Regions from separate parts of the Homo sapiens genome. Here regions 2, 3 and 4 are each linked to region 1. Evidence: fine-mapped QTL for protein levels in blood plasma. A gene starts in region 1. Each other region holds a variant in brackets. All regions are shown on one strand. Distances are from middle to middle. Region 1 holds the start of CR2 (complement C3d receptor 2). Region 2 overlaps CR2 (complement C3d receptor 2). Region 3 overlaps CR2 (complement C3d receptor 2). Region 4 overlaps CR2 (complement C3d receptor 2).

The links. PIP is the chance, under the fine-mapping model, that this variant and not a neighbour inherited with it causes the effect. The UK Biobank Pharma Proteomics Project read protein levels with antibody pairs (Olink). The fine-mapping took linkage between variants from a reference panel, not from the people measured, so its PIPs are less certain.
Region 2: its variant is fine-mapped to the plasma level of the CR2 protein (UK Biobank, PIP above 0.99). The variant lies in the coding sequence of CR2. If it changes the protein, the assay may bind it differently, which can mimic a change of level.
Region 3: its variant is fine-mapped to the plasma level of the CR2 protein (UK Biobank, PIP above 0.99). The variant lies in the coding sequence of CR2. If it changes the protein, the assay may bind it differently, which can mimic a change of level.
Region 4: its variant is fine-mapped to the plasma level of the CR2 protein (UK Biobank, PIP above 0.99). The variant lies in the coding sequence of CR2. If it changes the protein, the assay may bind it differently, which can mimic a change of level.

What each region holds. Positions count from the first base shown.
Region 1 is chr1:207,451,133-207,459,255 of GRCh38, reverse strand. It overlaps CR2 (complement C3d receptor 2), which reads right to left and starts at 4,928. Exons shown (of 20, transcript NM_001006658.3): 1 at 4,780-4,928. The coding sequence starts at 4,837. RefSeq lists silencers at 4,370-4,479, 4,860-5,089.
Region 2 is chr1:207,462,945-207,471,067 of GRCh38, reverse strand. It overlaps CR2 (complement C3d receptor 2), which reads right to left. Exons shown (of 20, transcript NM_001006658.3): 2 at 4,156-4,542; 3 at 2,353-2,541; 4 at 2,169-2,268; 5 at 1,836-1,918; 6 at 966-1,373; 7 at 152-328; 8 at 1-71. Among named protein-coding and RNA genes, the nearest start is that of CR2, 13 kb to the right of the region's middle. RefSeq lists an enhancer at 592-1,791. The variant G/A (reference allele first, on the strand shown) is at 2,463.
Region 3 is chr1:207,477,640-207,485,762 of GRCh38, reverse strand. It overlaps CR2 (complement C3d receptor 2), which reads right to left. Exons shown (of 20, transcript NM_001006658.3): 16 at 7,693-7,878; 17 at 6,483-6,506; 18 at 5,710-5,785; 19 at 191-299. The coding sequence ends at 209. Among named protein-coding and RNA genes, the nearest start is that of CR1, 14 kb to the left of the region's middle. The variant G/T (reference allele first, on the strand shown) is at 5,713.
Region 4 is chr1:207,471,871-207,476,716 of GRCh38, reverse strand. It overlaps CR2 (complement C3d receptor 2), which reads right to left. Exons shown (of 20, transcript NM_001006658.3): 10 at 3,538-3,945; 11 at 2,996-3,172; 12 at 2,832-2,916; 13 at 2,394-2,476; 14 at 1,501-1,893; 15 at 298-483. Among named protein-coding and RNA genes, the nearest start is that of CR2, 20 kb to the right of the region's middle. The variant C/T (reference allele first, on the strand shown) is at 2,419.

The DNA.
Region 1 (8,123 bases):
GTTAACCCAAACTATCATAAAAGACTGAAAAACCACAACCGTGCACAAAAGCCACTGCAACCCTACAAGAACATCCTTCCGGCATCTGCCTGTATAACCTCAAACTGGCATCATCCTTGTTATTGGTCTTTGTAGCCAAGGATAATTATTCTAAAACAATTATGTAATCCTCATATTTTTCCTTTAAAAACCTTTGTCTTCTTTTACTTCCTTGAATATACACACAATTCATAATCACACACATATTCCCATTGCAATGTTCTATTCCCAAACAAATATCTTTTTTTTTTAGGGTCTTTCCCTGTTTGTTATTTAGTTTAACAACAGTTATGCATATTAACCAAAGTTCAGTCCTAAGCACAGGAGATGTATCTGTGAACATCAGAGACAAGGTTCCCACCCTCATAGAATTTATAATCCAACAGAAAGAGACAGACTGTAAATAGATACCAGGAAATAAATAAGAAGGTGCTGAACATGAAATATGAAATAGAGTGATATGTCACAATGTAATGCACTGGAAGGAGAAGGGACAGGGTGGCATGCAACTTCAGTTATGATGGTTAAGGAAGGCCTGTGAAAAGGCAACATTTAAGTTGTGACTGAAGGACAAGAAGGAAGAAGGAAGCAGCCAGGCAAATTGCTGGGTACAAGTATTTTAGGCAGAGGCCTAACAGGAGGAATGGATTTGGTATGCTCCAGGGACAGACAGAAGGCAAGTGTGGCTGGGATGCAATGAGCAAAGCAGAATGGTCCACGATCAAGTCAGAAAACTCAGCAGGAGGGATCATGAAGGGCTTTTTAGACCACAGATATGTGAATATTATCCTGAATAGAAGTCATTGGAGAGTTCAAGCAGGAGAATCACAAGGCCTGACTTACATTTTTAAAGGAATATTCTGGCAATTGGGTAGAGAGTGGATCGAACTGCTTACTTTTAGAAGCAAAGAGTACAGTTTAGGGCCAAAAAAAAAAAAATGAAGCTTGGCAAAGGATTGAGCAGTGGATATATTTTAGAAATAGAATTGGCAAGATTTTTTGTTGTTTTACATGTGGGGCTGAGGAAATGGGAGGATTCCTGACTTCTAGACTTCTGACTTGGGCTACACAATTGATAGAATTACCCTGTTCTGAGGATGGAAAGCCTGAAAAAGGAGTGTGTGTGTGTGTGTGTGTGTGTGTGTGTGTGTGTGTGTTGTGGCCTTGAGGTAGGGAATTGTGTTCAGAATCATTTCCATTCAGACTTGGTATATCTAACACACTAGGCATCCACATCAAGATGCCAAGTAGGCAGTTTGCAGCTCAGGAGAGAGGACAGAACTATAGATAATAAATATGAGTCATCAACATATAAATAGTATTCAAAGCCATGAGACAAGATGAGTTGAGGTTTTTTAGGAAGAAGAAATGAAGAAAGAAGAGGCTCAGGGCTGAGCCCCAAGACCCTCTAATATTTAGAGATAGAACAAAAAAGACTAAGAGACAACAGGGAAGTATGGAAAAAACAGGTAAGAGTGTCTTGGTTTGGAAGATGAGAATGATAATGGTTTCAAGGTAAAGGAAGTCATCAGTTTTTGCTGAAAGACTGAGAAAGATTAACATAGAAAAATGACCATTGGATTTATCAGCATAAGGGTCAGTAGCGACATTGCAAGAAACAGCTTCAGGAGACTGTGGGGAAGAAGCCTGTCTGAAGTGGAGAAGGAGATAACGAAATTTGAGTAAGTAGTCAATGAAAAGTTTTGCTGAGAAGAACAAGAAGAGGGACAGGAAAATGGAGTTCCAGTGGGTCATGAGAAGGTCCATAAAGGATTTCCTGGGGTATACTTAAATGCTGGTGGGGATGATCATACAGAAAGAGGTACATTGATGATGCAAGGTAGGAGATATCTGCAGAAGTAAAGTCCTTGCAAAGGCAAGAGGGTATGGAACATGATCATGAATACAGGAAAAGGAGCTGAATTTGTCAGCAGAATGGATACTTCTTTCATTGTTATAGGAGGAAACATACCAAGATTTCAATTCATATTTATTGAATTCCAAATTACAGGCTATTGATAGGAACTCAAATCAGGAAATAAGGCAGATTAAGGTCTTGCACTCATGGAACTTGTATTCCAGTGAGGGAACAAACAACAAACAGGTACATAAATAAGGAAGAAGGTTTTAGATGGTGATAGGTGGTCTGTAGAAAATAGAACACAGTTTTGTATTGGAGAGTACCCTGGAATATGGATACTTCAGACAAGAGTCAGAGAAGCACAACAGAGGGCTGAGCCTTGAATGTCAAGGAGACAGGCAAAGAATAATTTGTAGGAAGAGCATTTCAAAAGAGAGAATACCTAGTGCAATTGTGCTCAAAGAATAAAGAGAAGGCCAGTGTGGCTGGGGCAGAGAGAGTGAGTGGGGTACAGAGAATTTCAGGGAGAGGCAGAAGGCCTCAGACTGGAGAATAAGGGGTATGGGTTTTATTCTAATGTGACGGGAAGGCCTCAGCAGGTTTTCTGCAGTGGAGAACAAAATCTGATTCTAGATGGAGGTAAGTTTGTAAGTTGGTAGGTTTGTAGCCGATTAGAAAATGGGAGCATTCTTGTTTCATGGTTTTGTTTTCTCAGCATAGGATAAAGTTAGGTGGCCACTGAAGGCTTGAGTAAAATCTAGAAGTGTAGGAAATTTGAAACTGTTTATGCAAATAGACAAAAGGAAAAATAGGAAAACACTAAAAAGGAAATTTGCTTCCATTGACTTTGCTTATAGCAGTGTGCCCTATAGATACTTGTTGCAGAATCTTCTAGAGTGATTGTTAAACCTCAGCTTTCCTGTGCTAACTCCAAACCTATGAACCTCTGGAGGGGGAGGTGGAACCAGGAACCTACATTTTATAAAGGTACTTTAGTATTTTATTAAGCACACTCAAGTGCAGGAACTGGCCAAGAGATGATGTGTGGAGAGCATGCAGTAGCAGTAAAAGTTAGCAGTGGAGAGTGGGCAAAGCATGAGCCATGGGAGACAGGTGGGGAAGACCATGAGCAGCGCATACAAGACAGGCAGCTGGAGAAATCAGGGGGTGTGAGCTTCGGTGAGATCCCATTCCAAAGGGCTAGAAAGGCTGAAGACACCAGATTTTCTTCCACTGGAGGCCTTTTAGATTTTTGAACAATGGAGTGAAATAATGAAAATATATATATTTCTTAATTTTTTGTTTTCATAATTGGAAAGTGACCTATAGGTCACTCTTTAACCTTTCCAATCATAAGAACCAAAATCTCTTAAAAGAGATGAGGTTGTTACACAGGTAATTATAATGCTTAGGATGGGAATACTGGTACAAAAATGAGAAATGGACAAACAACAGAAGCACAGTAGCTTGAATGGCTGATAGGTAGACCTGGTATTTCATGGGGCTCCAGTTAAGTGACCTACATGATGCTGCTGCTGTGGCCCTGAATTGGCAGGACTGGTGAAGAATTTGATTTTCAGTTGATAATATCCTCTTTGAAATTTAGAAATAGGTGAGAAGTCAGGGACGTACTCTGCTCTTAGAAAAAGTGTGAATATACATTTGTTCAAAGGGAGTTAATATGCAGAAAAAGAAAAGAGATGAAGATAATGGTCTGGAGAAAGGTTTAAGGGTCAGGAGACAGTAAAATGTCAGGAAAGCAAAAAGTTGTAATAAACTAATATGTGCTGTATTCCAGACACCTCAATAAGCTGGATGTCCATAGAAACAATTGGACACCCAGCTTGTTAGCTTAAATGCTGGCTCCATAAAATCAAGTCTGTACAGGAGGCTTATTACTGATATTTAGTAGTAACGACTAACATCCAACTTTCTTTGCTTAGTTTCATCTGTGCTCAGGGCAGCTCAGTGAGGTGGAAGGCCAGTTAATCACTAGTTTCATTTTACAGATGAAGAAACTGAAGATCAGGGAGCTAAATGACTTGCCAAAAGTCACCCAGTTATTGAGGTCTGCACACAGTAAACGTCTTATAAACTAGGAATGCACGGTACCGTGGAGATAATTAGAAACTTAGACCCATCCTGTAGCCAAGAGACGCTAATCTTAATTATAATCTTTCTTTAAAATCAAGCCAATCTGGAGGAAAAAAAGATATAATAAACGGTGAATGAGACCTTTGCGGACGTCCACACCATTACAGTAGGTTAATAACAAGAAGAAAACAATAGTTTTAATCCATGTCTCAAAAATAACTACGGATGGTTAATGTTTAGGATCTCTACCAATATCACATTAGAGTTCAGAAAATCTGAGACCCATGCTTGGGAACCAGGTCTTACTCTTATTTAGGGAAGGGAGCCGAGGTTCTGCCGCTTTTGCTGGGCAAGAGCGCGGTTCGGGTGTACAGAAACAGCCTCACGTGGCTAGCTGGTGCCTCATGCAGTGGGTAGGTTTCCCGTGGCGAGCGGTAGCGCTGACCGCCGGCCAGAGAGCGATGAGCACCTGCAGAATCCTGGGGGCGGGGAGCCCGGCAGGAGACCGCGAGCACCCGCACGCCGCCAGCCACACCGGGCCGACCAGACAGCGCCCCTCTGTGGCGCAGCCTCCAATTCTGGAGGTCCCAGCTCCCGGAGGGGCCAGTGGGGACAATCAGGACCAGGCGGTTTATTGCAGTGGTCCCTCAAAGCTAGCGGGAGGCGGACACGCGTCGAGCACTGCCCCCACCGTCTCGCTTTTGGCCCCCTGCTTTGCATCGCGGCACAGAAACTTTCCCTGCCCGGGACGCGTCCCCACCTCCGTGCTCCCCCTCCCAGCTCACCGAGGACCCCCGGTGCGACGAGAGCCAAGAAAACCCCGAGCAGGCCCGCGGCGCCCATGCCACGGCCGAAGCCCCCGCGGCGGGATGCGTTCCGAGACCCGCGAGCGTCCGGCAGCTCTGGGAGGGCAAGGCTGGAGCAGCAAGCAGCTGTGAGCCAGGAGAGGCGGGCCCTTAAATAGTGTCCGGCACACGTGCTAGTTCTGAGCGCACACCTGCAGGCGGCCTGGGGGCTGACGCGGCGCCGGTGAGGGTGGGACAAGCGGGAGGGACGGCCCGGCACGAGGTGGGCGGGGAGCTCTGAGCCACTCTTTGGCTCAGACTCACCCCTCGTTGCGGTGGCTTCCCCACTTTTTTGACCACGCAACCCACTACACTCACTTGTTTCTCTTACTAGAACTTAAACAAAACTTTCACAAGTTAGTACTCACCCTTAGTAATCTACAATGTTCGTCCTCTGTGCCATGCTGTGTTATGCTAGACTAGGCTAGGCTATCCTATTCTTATTAGAAATCCACCAAACTCATTTCAAAACCTATTAGTGGATTCATCTCCCAGTTTGAAAAAGCAGTGTAAGTTTACTTAGGGAATTTAGGAACAGCAGCCACTTCTGCTCTGTTCTTTATTTTGAAGTAATCTCTACAGAAAAGTTTCAAGAGTACTGCAGAGAATTCCCATATACTTGTCACCCAGATTCTCTGCATGTTAACATTTTGCTGTATTTTCTTTACCATTCTCTATTCTTTCTCTATAGACATATATGTACATATATGTGATTATATAATTATAATTATATAATTATTACTTTGGAACCATCTAGCATTTATTCCTATTCTAAATGGTTCACTAAGGACTTTCTGTTCCATAACTAGAGTGCAATGATCAAAAATAAGAACTTAACATTGACACAAGACTATAAGCTACCATCTGTATTTAAATTTTGACAATCATCTCAATAACCTGTGTTATGGTAAAAACAATAACAACAATAGAAACCAACCTTTGTTTTTCCTGGTCCAGAATCATTTCAGGATCATGTATTGTGTTTGATCATTATGCCTTCCCCCCACCCCCAGTTCTTTATTCTGGAAAAATGTCCTCAGCATTTTTGGTATTGCATGACCTTTACATTTTTGACGAATACACCACAATTATTTTTGGAGAATGACTTTTAAGTCCGTTATCTATTATAATAACAAATTACCCTGAAGGTAGTGGTGTAAAGCAAGAATAAACATTTATGATCTCACAGTTTCTGTGGGTCGGTCAGGTGGTTCTGGCTTGGGATCGCTCAGGAGATTGCAGTTAAGACACCAGCTGGAGGTGCAGTCATCTGAAGGGTTAACTGGGATAGGCGAATCCACATCTAAGATGGCTCACTTACCAGCCTTTGGCTGGAAGCTTCATTCTTCACCACGTGGATTTTGCCATAGGGCTCGCTGCTTGTGTGTTGAGTGTCCTCGTGACATGCCAGCTAGCGTCTCTGAGAACAAGAAAGAAGAAGCCATAATGTCCTTTGTGACCTGTCCTCAGAAATCACAATATGTTAACTCCAGAATATCCAATTGATTGTACAGATCAGCCCTTTTCAGTGTAGGAGGGCAGTATACGTGGATGGTAATGTCAGGAGACAGGATCACACCCCACAATTTGGATTTGTCTATCATTTCTTCATGATAGATTCAGGTTATTGAATCTAATTATTTGACAGGAATACCAGAAAGGATGTCTTATCCTTACGGGGAGGCATATGTTGTCTATTTGTCCTATTACTGGTGGTGGTAACTTTGATCACTTAGTTAAGATGGTGCCTGCCATGTTTCTTAGTGTAGACTCAGTATTTTTCCCTTTGTAATTAATAAGTATTTTATAGGGAGATACTTTAAAACTATGTAAATTCCTCATTTTTTCATCAAATTTTTACCCACAAATTTTAGCGTCTATTGATGATCCTTTCTTGAATCAATTTTTACTATGATGGTTGTCAAAGGGTGTTTTTTCCTAATTTAATAATTACTTCTATATTCATCTGTTGGCATTTTACTGTAAATAAAAGTTTTCCCTTCTCTATTTATTTATTCATTTATCTATATCAGCATAAACTATATCAATATGAATTTTATTTATTTACTCAATGGGTCATAATTCATGGCTACCATTATTTATTTTGATGCTTAAATTCTCCCTGATCGGGCCAGTGGGAGCCCTCAAAATAGTTCCTATGTCATTTTGACTTGTTCTTATTGTTCTTTGAGCACTTCCTTACTTTCTGGCACACACACAAAAAAAAATGCTCCAGACTCACCTCTAGACCTGACACTGGAATTTGCTGTTTCTCCAAGGAATGCTGGTTCTTTCTGGCAGAGAATGGCATTTAGATGCCAGAATTGGATGCTAAGTGTGTTCATTTTTATTGGAGTATCATTGTTTCCGCACCCTCTCAGCAGACAGAGCAAGGATATGTATTATATATATATATGTATATCCATTCCCATATCTATATTTATATATGTCATGAATTCACAGTGATTCTTCCAATTTCAGTCCGTTAGCATAGAGTTCATTCTGTCCTTCCCTCTTTCTGCATGTGTAACTCCCTTCTTCAACAGTGAGACACCTAGATCCACAATATATTTACTTATTTGCTTAATCCTAGAATACACAGAAAGAAGTTTAAAATTGCTATTTCTATACTATGATGGAAATCAAATCTACTCGTTTTTAAAGTTTTATTTTGTTTATAGCCCGAAAATATAAAAACAGCATTGTTGTGTTCCAAAGTTACTCAGATTATTCCCCCTCTTCAGTGTGATTGTTATTCATTCAAAATACTGTTAATTTGTTTCTCTTTGTATTCTATTTTAGTTTCCCCTCAATCTTTTTGATTTTTTTTTGCTTAAATAAAACATTAACGTAGTCCCAAATGTCAGATTGATATAAAAAGACACAATAAAAGGGAAATGTCACTTCTCTCCATCACCTCTATCCTCTCCACCATAGGTACTCAATTTCAGTAGTTTCTGGTTTGTCCTTAGTTTTGCTCAAATGAGCTGCTACACATTTGTCTTCTTAGTTCTCCTTTTTTATTACATTTTAAAAGCATGCTATAGGTATTCTTTTGCACATTTCTTTTTTAACTTAACAAATATGCTGGAATCCACTATTTCCTACAAATTCAAATATTCCTCATTCATTTTTACAGTTGCATGCAATACTTCACTGTGTGGATATGCCATAGTTTATTCAACCATCTCCCTATGTATGGACAGTTTGGTTGTTTTTAATGCTCTAAAGAGTAACTTTGTGAATATTTATTTTTCTGCTGTTAGAAGCATGTCTTCAGTTCA
Region 2 (8,123 bases), 12 kb before region 1:
GACATCTGGTCTAACAAATTGGTGCTGGGGTTTTGTCAAGAGTTGCCTTCCTGTAGCTTCACACGCTGCCACTAAGAAAAGAGACTAGGATGAGAATTTAATTCAAGGCAATCTTAAAGTTAACAAAATGTCTACATTTGAGGCCTGGCACCTTTGCATTGGGGTACAGGGGGTGTCCACACCCCCTCAGAGGTACACTGTATGGATTCTTCTCCCACCAGCACATAGCCAGGGTTACAGCTATATTTTATAGATGTTCCAGGGTCAAAGCGGACCATGTGTCTATCTTCCTTTTGCCCATTGAGGATGTTAGGAGGGGCCTGGCATTCTAAATGAAAGGACAAAAACAAAACATAACTGCTTAAGTAAACAACCACAGAAAGAAACTGAGCCAAAGAAATTGATATTCATGCTATAATTCCACTCTGGCGTCAGCTGTATGATACAGAACATATGTTGCAGACCAGCTTTGGGTAATTTTAGATCACAGTTTCCCAATCTTTTGTTGTTGTTGTTGTTGTTGTTTTCTGCACAGAGGCTGCTGCAGATGTTGTTCACTTTCCACTGGGTTCTGCAACTCCTCTCCTGCCTCTTCCCTTCATAAGGAATCATCTTGTATGTTTTTTATGGGAGATTCTGATATATCCCTAGGAATGAGGGCTTGAATGACTTCTCTTTTAAGAAGTCACTATTAAGACAAACAAGCATTTTTCTCCTCATTTTTTCCCCTATAGAAATGAGAAACTTAGTGATTCCTAACATTTTTTCCAAGCATATTCCCACAAAATAAAACAATGGTGGGGGGCTAGTGATAAGAATGCCCTCTACAAAATTTATATTGATTAGATGTAGTAGATTTGAGGGAAGTATAAACTGGACAAGGCCCTACCTAAAGCCCACAACCCCTTCTTCTAATTTTTCAGAAACGAATCAGAAGCACCTTTTCTGAGTACCGGAACACTCACCCTTTTCACAGACTGGTGCAGATGGCTCCCATGTGCCTTGGGCATTGCATCGGATTTGCTTGCTGCCCTTCAAGGTGAAGCCAAACATGCAAGCAAATATCACAGTGTCGTTATAGGTATATCGATCTTTCTGCCCAGATACCATTCGGCCTCTTAGGATCTGGGGATGTGGACACTGAACCGCAGAAGTAGAAAGTTCACAGCGTGGGGCAGGGCCACTCCAGGTCCCAGTCTTCTGACTATCAACTGTACAACGGAGAGTGCTCTCTCCAATAAGGATGAAGTTCACTCCTTCCTCTGGGTCCGGGTCACAAGTGTAAGTGACTATGCTTCCATATGAGACATTTGCTAGTGAGTTGCCTATATGTCTTCCATTGAGAATAGGGGGAGGTGATGGGCAAAAAATTTCTAGGGGAATTGCAGAAAGAAATGACAAGATCATAGGTGTATTGAAAACAAAGAATGCCCCAGATGCTGCTTGATACCACTATCCTAGGACAGTGATATCCGAGTCTATAATGAATCAGTCAAGGCAGCTAAAGCAACATAATTTAGAAGATTGATTCTCAAGCTTCATTCCTGAGTATATGTACTCTGCTGATCCTTTGATTTCTTTTACCAAATACACTATTTTCTTTATGCATATGGTCTACCTACTTAGAAGGTCTGCATAGCTTTCAGAGGAGGGAAAGCCTAGGAACCCCATTTTACTTGAGGAAACAAAAAATAAGGATGCTTTGGTGAAGCACATATCCTTAAAGATCTCTAGGAGTTCTGTGTTCAGTAAGAGTCTGTAAGGTAATGACTGAACCAAAAGCTTTTAGTTAAGCTGAGAATGCAGTGCTGTCAGACCATAGTTGCCTAGCCTACCTTCACATACTGGCATTTTGGTCCAAGCAACTCCCTGTCCAGCAATTACACACCGACTAGAAGGTGGGCCTTGCAGTCGATACCTGGAGACAGAAGGTTGTCATTCAGAACTATTAGGCAGTTTGTGCTGAAGAACAGCAGCCTCTACTTACAATTCAAGACAAGTTCATTTCAATCAGTGTGCATCTGTTCCTTTTATCAGCATTACCTCTCACAACCCTACCCCAGACTGCCCAGAGATCCTCACAGAGGAGACTTCTGCAGGTTTCACAGTCCACACCACGCACACACAAGACAAATGAATTAAATCTCATAAATAATCCTGACACTCACCCTTCATCACAGAAAAAGTTTGCAGTTACACCAACCCGGAGAATTGGAGGCTCCTTTACCTTCCCATTGGGAAATCGTCCTAGAGATTTACAGCGTGCCTCTAAAAAACAAACCAAAGATGAGAAATGCATGGCAAATAACAGAACAGCCCAGATTCTTAAAATAGATTGTAAATTTAGGGTACCTTCACATGTGGGGGGGACAGCACTCCATTTTCCCGAAGACAAACAGTTAATGATCTTTTCTCCAACAAGCAAGTAACCAGATTCACAGCTGTAAGTCACAGACAATCCT[G/A]GAGCAATGGAGCCAACATTCTCACTTGTGTGATGTCCATTGTGGATCATAGGAAGTGCTGGACACTCGAGAGGGAAAACTTTACACACACATACCAGGAAAAAAAAGCCGTCAGATGATGCATCCTTCACAATCTAGAATCAAGGGGGTCCAATCTTTTGGCTTCCCTGGGCAACATTGGAAGAAGAAAAATTGTCTTGGGCCACACATAATATACGCTAACACTAATGATAGCTGATAAGCTAAAAAAATTGCAAAAAAAAAATCTCATAATGGTTTAAGAAAGTTTATGAATTTCTGTTGGGCCACATTCAAAGCCATCCTGGGCCACATGCTGTCCACGGGTAGCGAGTTGGACAAGCTTGATCGAGATGCTGACTTAGGATATGGATTTAAATAAATGACACATGATCTATGGTAGCCAGTTGGTATTAACTTTCAACCTAGTCTTTTAAAGATCAAACAGGTGTGGTTTAAGTGTATCCATTTTATGCCACAAATAGCCATAAATAGTACCTTATTTTTCATTTTTAGTTACACTATATGAATTACATTTGCCTTGTGAAAAATTTCAATTACCAAAAAAAGTCAATTTTCACCTATATTCTCACCCTATCCTTAAGCTTATTCTCTGTTCCAAAAGTAGCATGCTATCATTTCAAGGGCTATCCTGGTAGATATTGGCAATATAGTTTATTGGGATCCTATGCATGATACATATATACACCTATATTATGTGTGTGTGTACAACTAATACATATTCTATGCCTTACTTCCTCTACTTAGCGACATGTATACGATATCCTTCCATGTCCATACATATATGTCTGTCTAAATTGTTACAAAGGCTTAACTGTTTTCAGCAGCCATTGCCCTTTGTAACTATCGTTAAGATCTCCTTCCTCCAAGGCTATTTATCAATCAATCAATCAATAAACAGAATCCCATTTTATACTAATTTAACAGTTTTGTCAGCTCTTTAATCTGCTTAAAATTTGTCAATATTGTTCTTTATTAAGAAAATACCTAATTTGATAGTATAATTTTTGTCAAATATTGCCATTTCTTGTAATTGTGGAATTCAAATTCAGATTTATATTTCAGCAGCAACATAAACCAAACCAAAAGAGAAGGAATGAATAATTTACAGTAGGTCCCTATTTTCAAAGGCATTTATTTGAAATGTGATGGCTCAGAAGATGACTTGGGGAAATAGTGGATAACTTCAAAACATGTTTACAGAGACCACAGAGAGCAGGATATCACCTGTGCTAGACTGTGTTAGCAGCTACTTATACATTAATTTCAAATCCATTGGGTGTATTTTTGCTATAAGATCCCACCGTTCTTCTCATTTTAACAGTAACACAGATATACAGTTGAAAACCACCCCATTCCCACATCCCCAACAAACTCTGACCCCATCCTTGCAAAACTTACCCTACTCAATTATTAGGTGTGTTTAATTACATTTTTCCATGTACTTTAAACTCCTTTGCTCAATTGATGTTTTTTGAACGAGCAGTTATATGCCTCCACGAAGAAGCCATAACTTTCACCTTTTCCCTTGTTTCCTTCTTCCACCCTCATCATTACATGTTCACACTGTTTGTCCTTCAGGAGGGTACAAAACGTGGTCTGCACAGAAAGGCAAGACCCCAACCTCCCAACCCAGCTTTCTTTTCATACTCACCACTTACACAGGTTGGTAGTCGTGTCGGCCCCCACATATTATTTGCTTGACACCAAACAGACTTGTTTCCGTTCATGGAGAAGTTGGTTTTACAGGCAAATGTCACAGAATCACCATGTCTGTAGGGTGTAGAGCCTCTAATTTTGTATCCTCCTGGTACTATGGGCTCAGGGCAAGAAGAATATTTATTGAAATATTCACATTTAGGAGCAGGTTTATCCCAGGTTCCATCCACTTTGTCTTTAGTTATGCATAATAGACTTTTTTCTCCAATGAGGCGGAAGGTACCTGAACAACTGTACCTTATCACGGTACCAACAGCAATGGGGGTAGAATAATAACTAATCCGGCCATTTAGGATAGGCGGAGGAGAGCCACAAGAAATCCCTGAAAAGTAGAAAAGGAACTTGGTAGGCATACTGATCATGGTGAGAAAATATTCAAATGTAGGTAAAATATCCAAATATAGATCACATAACTTTTTCAGAAACAGACTTAGAAATATGTATAGTTTATTTATTCCCTGCTTACTCCCAAACTCCTAAATTCTTACCTTTTTCTTGATCCTCAGCAAACAGATCAACATAAATCATCTTGACCAAACAATAATAATGAAAAGAATATATCCAAAAGTTCTGAGTCTAATCAATTTTAATAATGAAACAAAAGGCAAATTCAGCACATGAAAATAACATATTAGTGGCATGATAGTTACATGTGGGGAGGTACCATGGATTAGGGAAATTTGAGCTCAGTGGACCTAGTTTCAACTCCCCACGGTCATTCAATAGCTGTGTGACCTCAGGCAAGTCTTACTCTCTTTAAGCTTCAGTTTCTTAGTCTATAGTATAACGCAAACTACTTCATAAGGTATAGTGAGAATCCAGTGCTAAAAGTACATGAACAGAGAAAGTACAATACCTGGAACATACTAATTATTCAATGGCTGCTTCAAACACACAACTGGGGGTACAGGCTGAGATGACCACTTTTGGTCCTGCTGCTGAAGATGCTAGAGCCTCAGTACAGGTGATTTGTCCTGACTTGAGGCTGGAACACTTTGAAAAAGCCACAGGAAGTGAACAGAGGTTTTGAATAATGGCCTCATATTCTTCATTTACTTGTCCTAATAACCATGAAGGATATTGTTTACATTTACTTTGTTATGCACGCCTTTTCTGAGGGAGTCTCAGAATAAAGGGAAAATTGCCAACCTCTAGAACTTTCAGTTAACTTCCCTTTGGCTCCAAGAGGAGGTCTTCAGTGAAAACTGACATAAGAAGATACAGCCAAACTGTTTCATCACATCAGTGCTATACTTGGTTTCAGTAAGGGTAACTTTCGAGAACTGTTGTCTTTATACATATAGAATCTGCAGTATAATATATACTCAACTGAATCAATTTAACATCTTTGGTCTGCATTCCAGAAGACAGAGAAGAGTGGCATATATATGTTCAAAGCACACCTATGGATAAGATGTGATAATTATATATATATATATGTATGAAAAAATCTCTAATCATTGACTTTGGTGCTATCTGCTTTTTTAAAAAAGCATCTTTTAATTTCCCCTACAATAACACAGATCTAGCACTGCCCCAAAATACAAAAGAAGAAAAAGTCCTACATCTGCAACATTTAGATATTACTTTCAAAGTTTACTTTTAAACTCTTTAACTAGGCAGGGTGTGGTGGTTCACGTCTGTAATCCCAGCACTTTGGGAGGCTGAGGCAGGTGGATCACCTGAGGTCAGGAGTTCAAGACCAGCCTGGTCAACATGGTGAAACCCCATCTCTACAAAAATACAAAAATTAGCCAGGCATGATGTTGGATGCCTGTAATCCCAGCTACTCGGGAGGCTGAGACAGGAGAATCGCTTGAACCCAGGAGGTGGAGGTTGCAGTGAGCCAAGATCACGCCATTGCACTCCAGCCTGGGCGACTGAGCGAGACTCCATCTCAAAAAAACAAAAACAGAAACACAAAACAAACAATAACAATAAAAAACTCTTTAACTAGAAAACTCAACCACATATACTATCTTCCTTCTGCTCTTTCCATAGGTACCATATATCTATTTCCCAGAAAAACCTTGTTTTATTTCTAGATCCTGAAGTTTCAGCCCAACTCACCCCTGAAGCACTTTGGCAGTAGAGGATTCTGTTTGCTGTTTAGTTGACACCATATTACATTGCTGCCTTTCAGGGTAAAACCAAGCTTACACTTAAATATCATGTATCATTTTAAAAAAATGAACATAATCCAGATTCCACAACTCCATTTTCAACTTCTATAATTGAGCATTCAAGTAAGAGTAATACACTGAAGAGGAGGGTTGCTCCAGAGCTCCAGACATCAACTTGATTATCTTTGCTGGTGCAATGCATTGACTTCTCATCCAAGAGGTCAAACAGCTTTTCCCTATTACATCCAATATGGCACTGATGATTTCATAGCAAACCCCTCTCCCTGCTGCTGCTGTCAAAGTCCCATGGGGGATGGCTGGGAGTGACTTACAAGGAATACCTTTTTAAGGAGTAGGTGGGGAAAGAGAGAATATTATACTTTCTGAGAATTTTCTCTTCATTCTTGCAATCCAAACTGCAACTCAGCCTACAATTTACCTATTTTGTTGAAATTCTGTATCCTGATCTCAAAGATGATTCTAAATAGGAAGTAGCAAGGTCAAAAGATATATGGAACTGGCTGATAAAAACCGAAAAGCTATGAGCTGGTCACCAGTCCCCGCCCCAGACCACAGATAAATTGTTATAGAAGGGACCTAGGGTGGCTTACTTTTTGCATGGAATAAAGTTGGCAGTGTGTAATCTCCTGGAATGTTTTAGATGTAAGCATTTACTCACTATGAAATAACTTATAATCAAAGGACAGTAAACAAAGGAACGTGTGGTAGGATTGGGGGCCATGAGGAAGATGGGTAAGTCATAGCTGTGTGCCTAGAGCTACTCAAACCAAGTGTAAACCCTCCTGGCTACTCACTTTGGTGTGCAGATGCTCAATTTCCCTCTGGAAGGGGACAAGAGGAATTAAATAGGGTGCAATAAAGAGATTGTTTTACTTACATTCATTAAAAGGCATGTCATTATCCCAGGTTACAATATTGTCTGAGATAATACATGTAGCAGATGAGTCACCAAAGAGTAGATATCTAAAGACAAAGAGATAAGAAATCTCGCGGCACACGTTTACCCTGTAACAAAACTGCACATCCTGCACATGTACCCCAGAACTTAAAATAAAAATAAAAATAAAGAGTGATCATCTCCCAGCTAGACTTACATTTTAGAAAAACTTAGTTCTTTCTCTACTGAAAGAATAGCAGAGAATAGAATATCATTTATGACAAGCAGGGGTGACAGATTAAGGACTCATACAATTTAAAGCCAAATGAAATTCAAGCTCCTGGTCAGTAGCACTGGAGACTTAAAACTGGAAGAGAGCAGCCAAAACTTCCTTCTCTTCTAGGGATCCTCTCTAGCTGGTAATCTTGAAGCAGTGTCTCTGGAGTGGATCAGGGAGGTGATTCCTTTTTGCTTATTTATTTTAAAAAGTATGTGGCAATTACTCAGATCTCTTTTGGAAGAGTGATGGTTTCTGGTTGGAACTGCTGTTCTGGTATCCATGTACCCAGGAACTGTCTCCTGCCAACTCACCCTTTATTACAAGAATATGTCATTGTCAACCCAAATGCAATACCCATGTGTGTAATCACAGAGTCCTAAAGGAGTTCTCTATGACTCACACATGATTTATCTACAAAAGAAAACCAAATCAACCCAAACAGAATTTGAGGCTGGGATTCAGGAGACTTTTTGGAGACTTTTTGTGTTTTATATTAAATCTCAACCTGACTGGACTTGCTGACAGGCCTGCTTATGTTTACTCACAGAAATTCTTACATTTACAAAACTTTCCAACGGATCAGTCAACTCTAGAACACTACT
Region 3 (8,123 bases), 27 kb before region 1:
ATGGATTAAAAAATTGGAACATTAGTTGGCAAAATGAAGTAGGTAAATGAACAATTGCTATGCATGATTACTGAAGACTTGTGCAATAGTAAGAAGCATGTATATACACCGTGAATGCTACGCTTATTGATAAATACAAGTTGAAGGAAATTTTATATGTAAATTAATAATATTCCATTTCATTACATACCACCAGTTTGTCTTCTGATCAGCTGGCTGGGTTGTATGGATCAACAGAATATACTTCTCGTGCTTCTAAATGAAAAGCTTCTTTCTGGCTTGTATCTGTATAATAATTGCTAAACAGAAGAAGAAAGAAAAATGTAATATCTTTACTCATTGACCATGTTTCAATGTAGCAGTTGTTTGCTTTCCATAATTCCCAACACATGGTAAGTACTTTTGTGGATGATTTCATTTTTTTAAATTATACTTTAAGTTCTGGGATACATGTGCAGAATGTGCAGGTTTGTTACATAGGTATACATGTGCCACGGTGGTTTGCTGCACCCAACAACCCGTCATCTACATTAGGTATTTCTCCTAATACTATCCCTCCCCTAACCCCCAACCCTGTGAAAGGTCCCAGTGTATGATGTTTCCCTCCCTGTGCCCACATGTTCTCATTGTTCAACTTTCATTTACAAGTGAGAACATACGGTGTTTGGTTTTCTGTGATGATTTCATTTTTATTGTTTTTATCCTATGAAGTGTAAACACTGTAACTCCATTTTTTGGAAAGGCACATAAAAAATGAATGATCTAGGCTTGTAAGTGTTCAAGTCAGAGGCTGACACTAAGCAGCTTTACCCTAGGATCCAGGACGCTTAATGACTAACAACTACAACTTCCAAATTGAAGAAAAGAAGCAAAAATAAGTTCTTATTTTAGATCATAACTTTACCCTTTTGGGACTCAATGTTCTAGTCTGACTTAAAAGCTTTAAACGAGTTTGAAGAGAATGTTTTTACTTTCCTTCTTTGAAAGTACACATATTTCATTGTGCTTCTAAAACCACTTTGCCAGAATTACTAAAAGACAATAAAATGTGATTATACTACCATGTAAAGCTCTAAAATAACATAATACAAAATTACTGGGGAAGAAAGAATACTGCTAAAGACACTGACAGCATGTCACTCACTAGAATATTGAAGAGTTCCGTGTACAGGAGATATGTTAAGAAGATTATAAAACAGTAATTTTTAGGTCAATGTGAGATTTAAGCTTTGTTACAATATCTTAGATGACTAGAAAAGAATAGCATAGTGTCTTTCAAGTGTTTAGATGGCTTTTCAAAATATTTAATATTGTCACTAGACATTCATTTTTAAATGATTACTCATCTCATTTAAAAAAGCATTTCAGGCCATTCAAGTGTCTTTATCAATTATTGGAAAATCAATTGAAGTGGGTTAGCAAATGGAAATAAATGAATGGCAACTAGGAATCTGGTTAAACAGGTATGTTTGCTTCATATCAGTTGAGGCACTTAAGTATAGTACATGATATAATCATATTAATAAACAATAATTAGACTGGAATATTATAAATTATTTGCACTTGTAAGCATTCCCCAAATTTGCAAATTTTTATACACATGCAGTGCTCTGATAGCAAACTCAGTAGCATGAAGGAAAGAGATAGAGACTGTATTTTCTATGTATTTACATTTCTAATGCCTCTTGGCTGAAATTATCTTGTGACTTCCTATGAGGAAGGCCCTGCAAATGACATCCCTAATTTTTTTTGAGACCCTTTTCTCCTTGAATTCTGTGACGCTACTCTCTGCTAGTTTTCCCCCTGCCTCTCTTCCTTCACTTTCTGCCTTTTGAACATTACTGTTCTTCTGAGGGCTGTTCTCATCCCAATTTTTATCTGTTCTGTTCTTTTTGGTTCCACAGCTTTCATTGTGATTTAAGTGTCACCCACCCGAGTCCAGACCCTTCTCCCAAGCCCTAAATCATGAGTACCTCAAAGTACCAGGTCAGAACCGAACTCCTCATCTTCCCCCACAAATCCTGCCCCTCTCCTCTTTTAGTGAGTCAGGGGGTCCACCTCATCGCCTTCATGTGAGCCATTCTATGTGCCTCCTTCTCCCCACATCCAGCATGTCACCAAGTCCTGGAAATCCTGTCCTCTTGATAGCAAAAAACCTCTTATTAAATATTCTCATGGTCCTTGTGATTCTCCACAAGAAAAAAAAACAGTGTGCAGTATGTCCAAATCTTATTTGCCATAGAACACCCTTTTTTTCTGAAGTCATTCATGAAAGCAGGGTTGTGTGGTACACACTCTGGTAAACTCTACACTCTAAGTACACGCTAACTGTACAGGACAGCCAGAACCCCATAGGCAGCCCTCACCCTCCCGCCTCCAGCCTAGAACAAACTGCCCAGGTTCGTAGATACCCTCAGTACATAGTTTCAGTGCAACCCCTTCATGTCTGAGCCTATTCTAGGAATTACATAACTGAGCCATGGCATCAGATGGCACTGGTGGCAGGGTAAATGATAGATGCAGGGGACTTGGCACGTGAAAGAAATTTTGCTGGAGCTTTTTGGTGACATGTTTTAGGTGGCATGACTTGGTCATCTCCCCACTCGGAGCTACCTGAGAGTTGGTAAGACTTCATTGGATTATCCGCCCTAACACTAGCATGTACAAAGACTCACGAACCTATGCACACATAACATCCGAGGCCAACACCTGACGGTATGCTTTGTTAAAAATGTATCCTTTGCACATATTAGTATTCTGTAGCTTCCACAAGATTTACGTGTCAGGGTTTTTTTTTTTTTTCTTTAATGGCATGTCTCCACCTAAAGCTATGCCACTTTCGCCTTCAATCACCATCACACACACACTATTTCCCAGCCATTTCAAATGGGTTATGTAGTTCTCACAACACATGATGGAAAGCCAAGCCTCTGGGCCTTTATTCAAACTGCTCTTTCTGTCTGGAATGCCTTTCTCTTCTTGTCTACACTCTCTTGAGGCTCACCTGAAACATCTCTTCCACGCTGAAACTTTTCCTGATTAAAACTCCCAAATATTGACCATTTGCTTTGCATCCTCACCAAATATCATATAATCCACCATGGCGACGTTATTTTATGGTACTTGTTTAGCGACATGCTTGTCCTCCTTTACCAGGCTGTGACCTCCTTGATGACAGAGGCCATATGCTACTAGGCTTTGTGATTCTAGCCTAGTATAGTGCTAAGGCATAGTAGGCACTCAGCCATTGTTGTATAAGAAAAGAATGGATGGACGTGGTCATTCCTCTTTTCGCATGACTTCTATTTCTCTAACATTACTGCTCAAATGTTTTAAAAGCCATGCATGTATATACTAGATAGAGCAACATATGAAAGTATCTACAGCAAATTGCTGACATCCATCAACTTAATATGTTGGACTTGAAGGCACCAGCAGTTGTTCAGTGGAAGAGACTATTCAGTATCTTTATAAACTAATTTGCTACAACAAGCATATTTACTTTTGTATTTTAAAAATTTATGCAAATATTTATAGTGATATAAAAATATGCTTAAAGAAGGGAAACAAGATTTTTCAGTGATTTTAAATAGGGAAAAACAACTTTTGTGACTATAAATACACTTTATGTAATATAGAAAAGAAAAAAGGATGCAGTATCATTTTTAGTGATAAAACACTAGAGGCTTTATATTAAAAATAAAGGTTAAAATATGCCAATATTCCCTAATATTACTGAAGATTTTCCTTAAAATTCTTCTCAGTAAAATGAGACAAAAACAAATAAATGAAAATGTATAATCGGTAGATATGAGGTAGAAATTATTTCTACCAATAATAATAATTGGTAGAAAATATAGTTTTCTACTTAGATGATTGGGTAACTCACTGAAAAGCTATTAGAATTAATGACTGTATAAAGATAGACTTTCCTAGATATCATTTGCAATTACTTATAAGACATAACCAAAAATGATTCTATTTATAAAGCAATAAAAATAAGATACTTTTATGGCTATGTAGCTTATATAAGGTAATCTATTAAATTTTAACTAAAATATAACAAAACATCTGAATAATTAGTCATCTGGTATTTCTGGAAGGAAATAGTGAATATCATGAAGAGGTCAGTTCTTCCCAAATAAATATATAGGTTTAAGGCACTTCCTATCAATGATCTAAGATTTTATTTTATTTTTCTAGGGTATGGGAGGTGTAGTCGTGGTGCAAATAATTCTATAGCCTATCTGCAAAAATAAATAGAAGAAAATTTCAAAATAGTTTTGAAGAGGGGGAACACATCTCGGAAAAAGCTACATTTATTAATAGAGTAGCTCTGGCTCATAGAGACAGGCCGATCAGTGGAATATAATCTATCTTGCATATTTATGTCAGATATCTCTGACATAAGCCCCAGTGTACACAAGAATTGAATAGGCGTGCTTTATCTGATAAAGAAAACTATGACCAATGGTGAAGGGATGGTTTACTCAAAATAGGTTTTGAAAAAATTGAATATATAGGGAAAAAAAGTACAAGTAGGTTTACTTCAACTACCATACCATAAAATAAATTCCTAATGGATTAAGATGTTTAAAAATAATTAAAAATAATATGCAAAAATATATCTAATTTCTGGATAAGAAAACATAACATACCAAAACATAGAAACGTAGTAATATAGTTAATATTAAGTAATCATGAAAATGACTAAGGGAGAGAAAAGATTACTTGATCAAATGGAAAGACCTAGTATATTTCTGAATGAGAAGACATTACAGAAAAGATGCCAATTTCTCACAAATTTATCTATAGACTTAAATGTAATCACAATTTTTTTTTGAAATTATAAATGATTCTAAAAATCACCTATAGGAACAAACAGAAGAGAATAGAGAGGAAAGTCCTATAAAATTGTAGTGTGAATTCTTGCCCTACCAGATATAATAACATAAAGGTATTAATTAAACACAAAGTGGTTTGTAATGGAACAGGCAAATCAATGAAGCAGGAAAAGGGGTTGAGAAACACGACATATCCCAGTACATTAAATATTACTAAGAACAAACTTCCTGGCAAGTCATCTGACAATAGTTATCAAGTATATTAAATGCTCATGCACTTATCTTTAGTAATTCTAGAAATCTATTCTAAGGAAATAAGTGGGTATGAAAAAAGGTTTAGCCAGAGGTGCTACTCCTATCTTTATATATTATCAAAGTAAATTTGGAAGGAACTTAAAACACATAAATACATATATAAATACACAGAATAGAATAATATGCTATTTAGTAACTGAAAACATGACTTAAAGCATAAAAACATAAACATGAGTCTAAATGAAAAAAATCAAGACAGAAGATGAAAATGACAAAATTTCAGTTTAAAGAGAGAAAAAATATACGAAAAAGATCAGATACGAATACACCAAAGTATTTGCAGTCGTTCCCACTGGGATTTTTTTCCTATTCTCTAGATTTGTTTACAATATACTATCTGAATAAACATCATTCAATAAAATAAGCTAAGTGTTTGATATCTCTTAAGTCCTACAGAAAGGGCTTCCTTTTGTATAGCACGAGATACTTCATTTAGTTATCACATTGCAGTATTTATTTCACATAACTTGTGCTTCTGTGTTTAGTTTCAGACAAGAAGCCGAAACCACTTGTGCATGTTGGTCAATCAAGTATTCGCCTTTGAACTTACCGT[G/T]CTCTGTGTTTTGATATCACGTATAAGGTAATGACAATCAAGAAGGTAAGAAGTATCAAACCTGCAGCAATACCTAGAAGAAAAATCCAGCAAGTATCAAATGCCAGAAGACGATCACCTACATTGTTCTGACTGATTGCAGGGCCTATTGCTAGTGGTGGGGAAAATGTTATGTGACTCATACTTAACTCTTCTTGGACATAAATGCTGAATTCCTGAATAATCATAGTTGAGCTTAAGGTTTTTCTGATTTGATCCAGTCCACCTTTAATCTAAAGCACCAAGCACATGACCACAAGGTTCCAGTCAACTTTTCATTGAGTTTTTCTGTTCCTTTTAGTTTTATTAGTAACAATCTTGTCACTGAGGTGACAAGAGAGAAATCTCAAGAATAGAAATTAGGTGCACAGGACACCAGGTTCTTATAATTTTGCATAACATTTAACTCTCAGCTGTGAAATGTATTTTGCTACAGCAGAAGAAGCCTGCCTATTTCAATAGACCAAATCAAGCCAAACACCAACAGTTAATAAAAACTAAAATATCAATTTAAAAAGAAGAAAGAGCTGGCTGTTCAAATAATTTATCCAACTCTATGCCAAAGTGACATTTTGTAATGTGACATGTACATTGAAGTATCTTTAAAACACCAAAAAGAGAACATTCCCTATGAGTTAAATATATCATCAGATAGGATATAGGACCTCTAGCATTACATATTTTTAAAAAATATTATAAGAGCTTTTCTTCAAGTATTTAAGAAGACTTACCACAAAGGACAGGAGCAAGTGAACCTAAAAATAGTACAAAATCATGAAAATGATTATCAGTATAGTGTCATAATTCAATGTAGCCCCACGTTTCATGGTAATGTCCCAGAAATCAACACTCTAGCTCCCTTCCAAGTCGATTTAAAAGATGTACTGGGGCCAGGCACAGTGGCACATGCCTGTAATCCTAGCACTTTGAGAGGCCAAGGTGGGAAGATCACTTGAGCTCAGGAGTTTGAGACCAACCTGGGCAACATAGTGAGACCTTGTGTCTATTTAAAACAAAAACAAAAACAAAAACAAAAACAAAAAACAACAGATAAAAAAGATGTATTGGAACCTTGAGTTATATCCACTTGTTTCTTATGTAGCAACTCACTGGCCTTTTTTTTTCACTCTAAGTAGATTGGGGGAGTCCACCAATGACAAAAACAATATACTCAACTTTATAATCAGAGATTTCTCAGGTTAGAATGCAAATATTAACTGTAACAACTATTTATTTAACCTATTTCTGGAGTTCCCTGTCAAATTGTAAGCACTTATTAACTCAGATTCAGCACGTAGGGTGGTCTATGCAGCAACTCCTTTCAAAATTTCAGGTTGCTTGTTTCACATTTTTGTTCCTTTTAAATTAGTGTTTCTATTTTCTTTTCTTCACTTTCCCCATCCTAAGAAAGTTGTGTTTTTTCTTTTCCTTTTTCTTTTTTATTTTATTTAATTTCTTTCTTTCTTTTTTTTTTTTTTTTTTTTTTGATAGGGTCTTACTCTGTTGCCCAGGCTAGAGTGCGGTGGTGCAATCATGGTTCACTGCAGCTTCAACCTCCTGGGCTGAAGTGATCCTCCTATCTCAGCTACCCGAGTAGCTGGGGCCACAGGTGCACACCTCCATGCCTGGTTATTATTATTATTTTTTTTTTGGTAGAGACCAGGTCTCACTACATTGCCCAGACTGGTTTTAAACTCCTAGGCTCAAGCAATCCTCCTGCCTCAGCCTCTCAAAATTCTGGTATCACAGGCAGAAGTCACGGACCTGGCCAAGCTGTGCTTTTTCTAGAATAGACCACTGACTTCAAGTTCCTCTGTAATTATACAACTGGTCACAAACCTATGTCAATTTAAAACCCAGGACTCTCCACGCTGAGGGAAACTCTCACTCTCTTCTCTCCGTTAGCCAGTTACAAGCGGCGGTGAAGCCCTTGGTACTTACGGGATCTGCAAACCGCCAGGGGAGGGTTCCATTGGTGATCCGATTGGCACTGGCTCTGGGGACTGCCTTCCAGCATATACCCATCTTCACACTCCAGAGTTACAACAGCTCCATACTGATACATTTTCCTTGGTTCCAGCCCTTTCTGGATTCCATCCATATCTGCTGGTGAGCTACAGTTTACCTCTGAAATTAAAGAAATCTAATTCAAGCACAGTCATATTTTGGCCTTTTACCAAGAAAGCAGAAATTTCCCTTAATAGAAAGATTTATAAAACCAACCTGTTTCACTCTCAGTAAGGAAAGCTGCACTGAAATAGGATAAGACTATATCCTAGACACAATCTTTTACTGTCAGCCCTCTATCTCAATAACCTCTGGGTAATTTAAGCCAGATTATATTTGTGTTTTTTGCTTCAGTTTCTATCCAA
Region 4 (4,846 bases), 19 kb before region 1:
ACTGTAACTACAGTGTGTAAATACAATCTGTGCTTTGGTTGTTTAATTTACAGACATAACTCCAACTTTCTATGTGTAAATGACTACATAAGTGGTCATTCACCAGATAGACTACAGCCTGAGACATTTTTTCTTATTTTGAGATATTTAATGATTGTATTAATCTAATTAAAGCCTTTAATGTAATCAGACAGTTAATTCATTTCTTTGGCTATTTTAAGTTGAAAGTACCCAACTGAATATATCTATTTGGCACAAATTTGATATAAAAATAAGAATAAAAAATAGACAAAGCACCTTTACAATGAGGGGCAGGTTGGCTCCAGGTTCCCTCATGTGTGCAAAGAAGGAGTGCCTCTCCCACCAGCAGGTAGCCTTGGTCACAGCTGTACAGGATTGACATTCCAGGAGAAAATCGAGCTATGTTTCCACCAGTATGGTTCCCGTTAGGGGTCTTAGGCGGAGGTGGACACCCTATGAAGGCTTAGACACCAATAAGAAAGGGTCTTTAACTCAGCACAGAGGAACACATAGCCTGCACTATCTCTGGGTGATAGCGATACAGGAAGGCCAGAAGCAACAAGCCAACTAACTGGTATCCAAAAACATTCATTCATTCCACCCAGACCAGCAACACTGGATGGAGATCTGCATTTCCTACTGATAGCCAATATGATTTGAAGAAAAGTGTTAAAAAATAAGATAATGAAACATTAATGGATACAGTTCACAATGGTAATCCATCAGCCAACAGTTTTCTTTTCCTTTCCCTTTAAATAGCAGACATGGTTACACCTTCAAATGTCTACGAGAGCTAGGAAGTGAAGCCACCAGATACGACAAGTCAGAGAGCCCCTGTCCTTCTAAAAGTGGCAGCCACTGCTCAGCTCAAGTTACTGGTGCCTTGCTGGGAAGCAAAGGGGGTCTTGTGGCTCGCAAGCTCACTATTTATCTTAAACTGAAGATGGGTTTCACTTAAGATTACTGTGCTGGTCAAAGACAACCGTTGCCAAACAGCCTCTGCTGTAGATAGTCATGGACAGGAATAAGGCTGCCAAATGATAACTACAATTACAAGAAAGACAATTCAATGGGTTGGAGGGCCAATTAATTCTCCAGAACACCCAAAGTTCTCTTTCTGGCTGGCAACATAGCCTTAAATATCAAATAATTAGCAATATTACTGCCAAACATTTGCCAAAAATGTATGTGCATTTTTCTTACACTAAAGTCATAACAATAACAATTTTTGGAGATGCTATCAATTTGGAAGTTAGCCATTATCCTTTCATGTACTATTTATTGCTCAATATACTGAGAAAGGAAAGAGAAAACAAACAATCAAGTGAGAAGATAGGAAAAGGCAAATATCTTGTAAAACAATATAACTGCCTTAGCTCTTAGATGCTTTTCTTTAGGCAGAATGTCAAGTGCAGATTCAAAACCTCTTTTCTTTATTCTGTACAACATCCCATAACTTATCCCTTCCAAGTATCTTACCTTTTTTGATACAAGTTGGCACACCTGGCACCCATGTGTTATCAGTATGACACCTAATCACGCGACTACCATTCATGATGAAGCCAGGATTGCAGTCAACATACACTATGTCATTGTGGGAATATGCAGAATGTGTTTTATTGAGCTTGTACCCATGTTTGACTTCTGGATTAGGGCAGCGAGTCACAGGAGGAGATCGTAAGCACTGTGGGGAAGGCCCGCTCCAAGATCCATGTCCTTTAGAATCACTTCTGCACTGCAATTTTTTCTCTCCCAGGAGATAGAATCCTTGGTCACATTCATAAGAGACTTCATTTCCATATAGAAAGTTTTCTGCCATCATGCCTGTGTGCTTCCCATTGACAATCACTGGTGGAGGGTGACAGTGAATAACTGCAGAAGAGATTTAGGGAGTTCTACTTCAGCTAGTACCTCAAGGTGAGCGGTCTTCATTCAGGTACAAATGACAATATGCAACTGCATATATTTCACATAACTAGAAAATAACTTAAATTTTGGAATATGGATTATGCTTTTTTTAAAAACAGCTTTATTAAATGTGATTATAGGAGTACTATATACTCCATAAAAATTCAGAAAATAGAGTAAAGTGTGAAGGAAGAAAGAAATACAGCTATGTTCCCATGACCTAGGAATATGGGCTATATATTTTGTTATTGTTAGCAAAATTAGCAGATGCATGAAAAACAGTTCCTACTTGACAATGTTGTTTCTCAGTGTCAATACTGACCAACACCATAAGATTTTTCTTATCTAACCTCCAATGAGGGAGACGCCTAAGACTGCTGAAGCAGCAGTAGACTAATTCTTCAGTGGCCTGCCCTCTCTAATCCTCCATTACCATTGTCAGGCTTTTATTTTTTCTAACTTACCTTTACAAAGTGGAATCTTTTTGAA[C/T]CAAATTCCATTTTCAGCATCTTGACACATCTGATAAGCATGTCCAGTCAACTGGTACCTACAGAGAGACAGATTATAATGCATTTCCTGTTCCCAATATCATATCTCTTCAAACTGCATGCAAAAAGGGACTTCTAAATAAGAACTTTGGCAGAGAGGAGTTGAAATTCTAGTAAAAAACTACTTTTTTTTACTCCAAGTAAAAAAACTACTTTTGAGTTAAGCAAAGCCCTTTCCATGTCAAGAGACGACTGAAGAGTCAGAGTTGCTATTTAGGCCATTGGAACCTCATATTCTCCATGCCTGTGACAATGAGGAGCCTCTAAAGGATGCCACCAAGACAAGTTGAAGGTCAAGTTAATCCACAAAACAAGGTTGAGACCTTTTCTCAGAATAGACCACTTCATACTCACCCATCTTGGCAGGACGTATTAACTAGCTCCACACGTGAACCAGCTGGAAGTTCTTGAAGACTCTGTCTCACATGCTGGCATGTTTCTGGAGAAGCAAGGATGGAATTACAGTATTTATAGATGTCTCATATCAAAGAGAAGGACAACTCTGGAACTTAAAGTACCTTCACACCGTGGGGCAGAAGGACTCCAATTTCCTGAAGGCATACAGTGAATGGATTTGTTTCCCACAAGCAAATAGCCAGGGTCACAAGTGTAGTCTACAGTCATCCCAGAGACAAAGAAGACCGTATTTCCACCTGTATGACGACCATGGTGGAGCCCAGGAGGTGACTGGCAGCCTGAAGAGAAAAACTCCCTACATAAATACCAACACAGAGGAATTTCTACTCAAGAACACTAAGTGTACAACATTGGACAGACAGTCTGAAACTCTGATGCCAAAGATCATGAAGCTCAAATTCACTACTGAATGCTGTTTGCTCTTTAAAAAGGCTCTCTCATTATCTACCCTGAATAGATCCCAGATCCAAGGGGGCATTTGCATGCACACACACAACACAGAGAACATCTATTATAGGATGGAAGAAACAGAAAGTAATCTGTGCCCCTCTTGCCTCTTTCCATGATGCAGTTTTGGGTGGGAGATAATAAACAAGAATAATTAAGTAAATCTCTCCTTTTTTCCCCCTTATTGGGTTTTTACCTTTTTCACAAACTGGTATTTCAGGATCCCAGGTGTTATCAGCTTTGCAACGAATCTGACTACTGCCCTTCAAAGTAAATCCACTATAACACTTGAATGTCACAGTGTCATTGTAGAAATATGGGGCTTCCTTGCCAGATATCTTGTATCCATTTGCAATATGGACATGTGAGCACTGGACAGCAAGGAGGGAAAGTTTACACAGGGGAGCAGGGCCACTCCAGGTGCCTCTTTCTTGATCATTGCTTGTACAACGGATGGTGCTCTCTCCAATGAGGCTGAATTCCACTCCTCTTTCTGGCCCAGGGTTACATGTGTAAGTGACCGTGGTTCCATATGGAAAATCTTCTAAGGAACTCCCGGTGTGTGCCCCATTGTAGATAACAGGGGGTGGTGGGCAGGTGATTTCTAGAGAGATGAAAAGATACTGTAGAATTGAGTTCCTGTATTAGACACCAAAGAACAAAGAACCACCAAATGAAGCTGGTTATGAATCTGTTGTTTCCTGGACGGTATGGGTACATTTTCATGATGTGAGTTGTGTGAAAGCTCATTAAGTATGTAAAATGCAATTTAAACACATTTCATAGGAAAGAAAATCTTTATTCAAAGTGAATGTGGTTGATCAACATCACATTAGGAGTTAGTTAGGCCCAGTAGTAAATTGCTAATTAAAAGAAGAATTCTTTTTAATTAGGCAATAGGAGAATAAAAGACACAGGGTAATAGAATTATGCTTTCTTGGTTACTCTGTGCTGAGGTGATATGATGGTTTATATGGCTAGCTGAGAAAACTTATTGTTGAATGAGCACCTACTTTGTGATAGGCAGTTTCCTCATCCAGAAAGTAGCAATAGTACAATTTAATTTGAATAATTTGAAGTCTGTAGTGTTTTTTAAATTTTCTACGTTTCTTTTTACTTTTTTTTTTGAGATGGAGTCTCACGCTGTTGCCTAGGCTGGAGTGCAGTGGTGTGATCTCAGCTCACTGCAATCTCCGCCTCCCGGGTTCAAGTGATTCTCCTGCCTCAGTCTCCCAAGTAGTTAGGACCACAGATGCATGCCACCACACACAGCTAATTTTTTGTATTTTTAGTAGAGATGGGGTTTTACCATGTTAGCCAGGATGGTCTTGATCTCCTGACCTTGTGATCTGCCGCCCTCAGCCTCCTGAAGTGCTGGGATTATAGGCGTGAGCCACTGTGCCTGGTCCTTTTTACTTTTTATTTACATTCTCTGGACCTCCTAGTCTGTAGTCTTATGCCAACTTTACAGAAGAAAGGCTAGAGTTTCAGAGGAGTTGTACAAG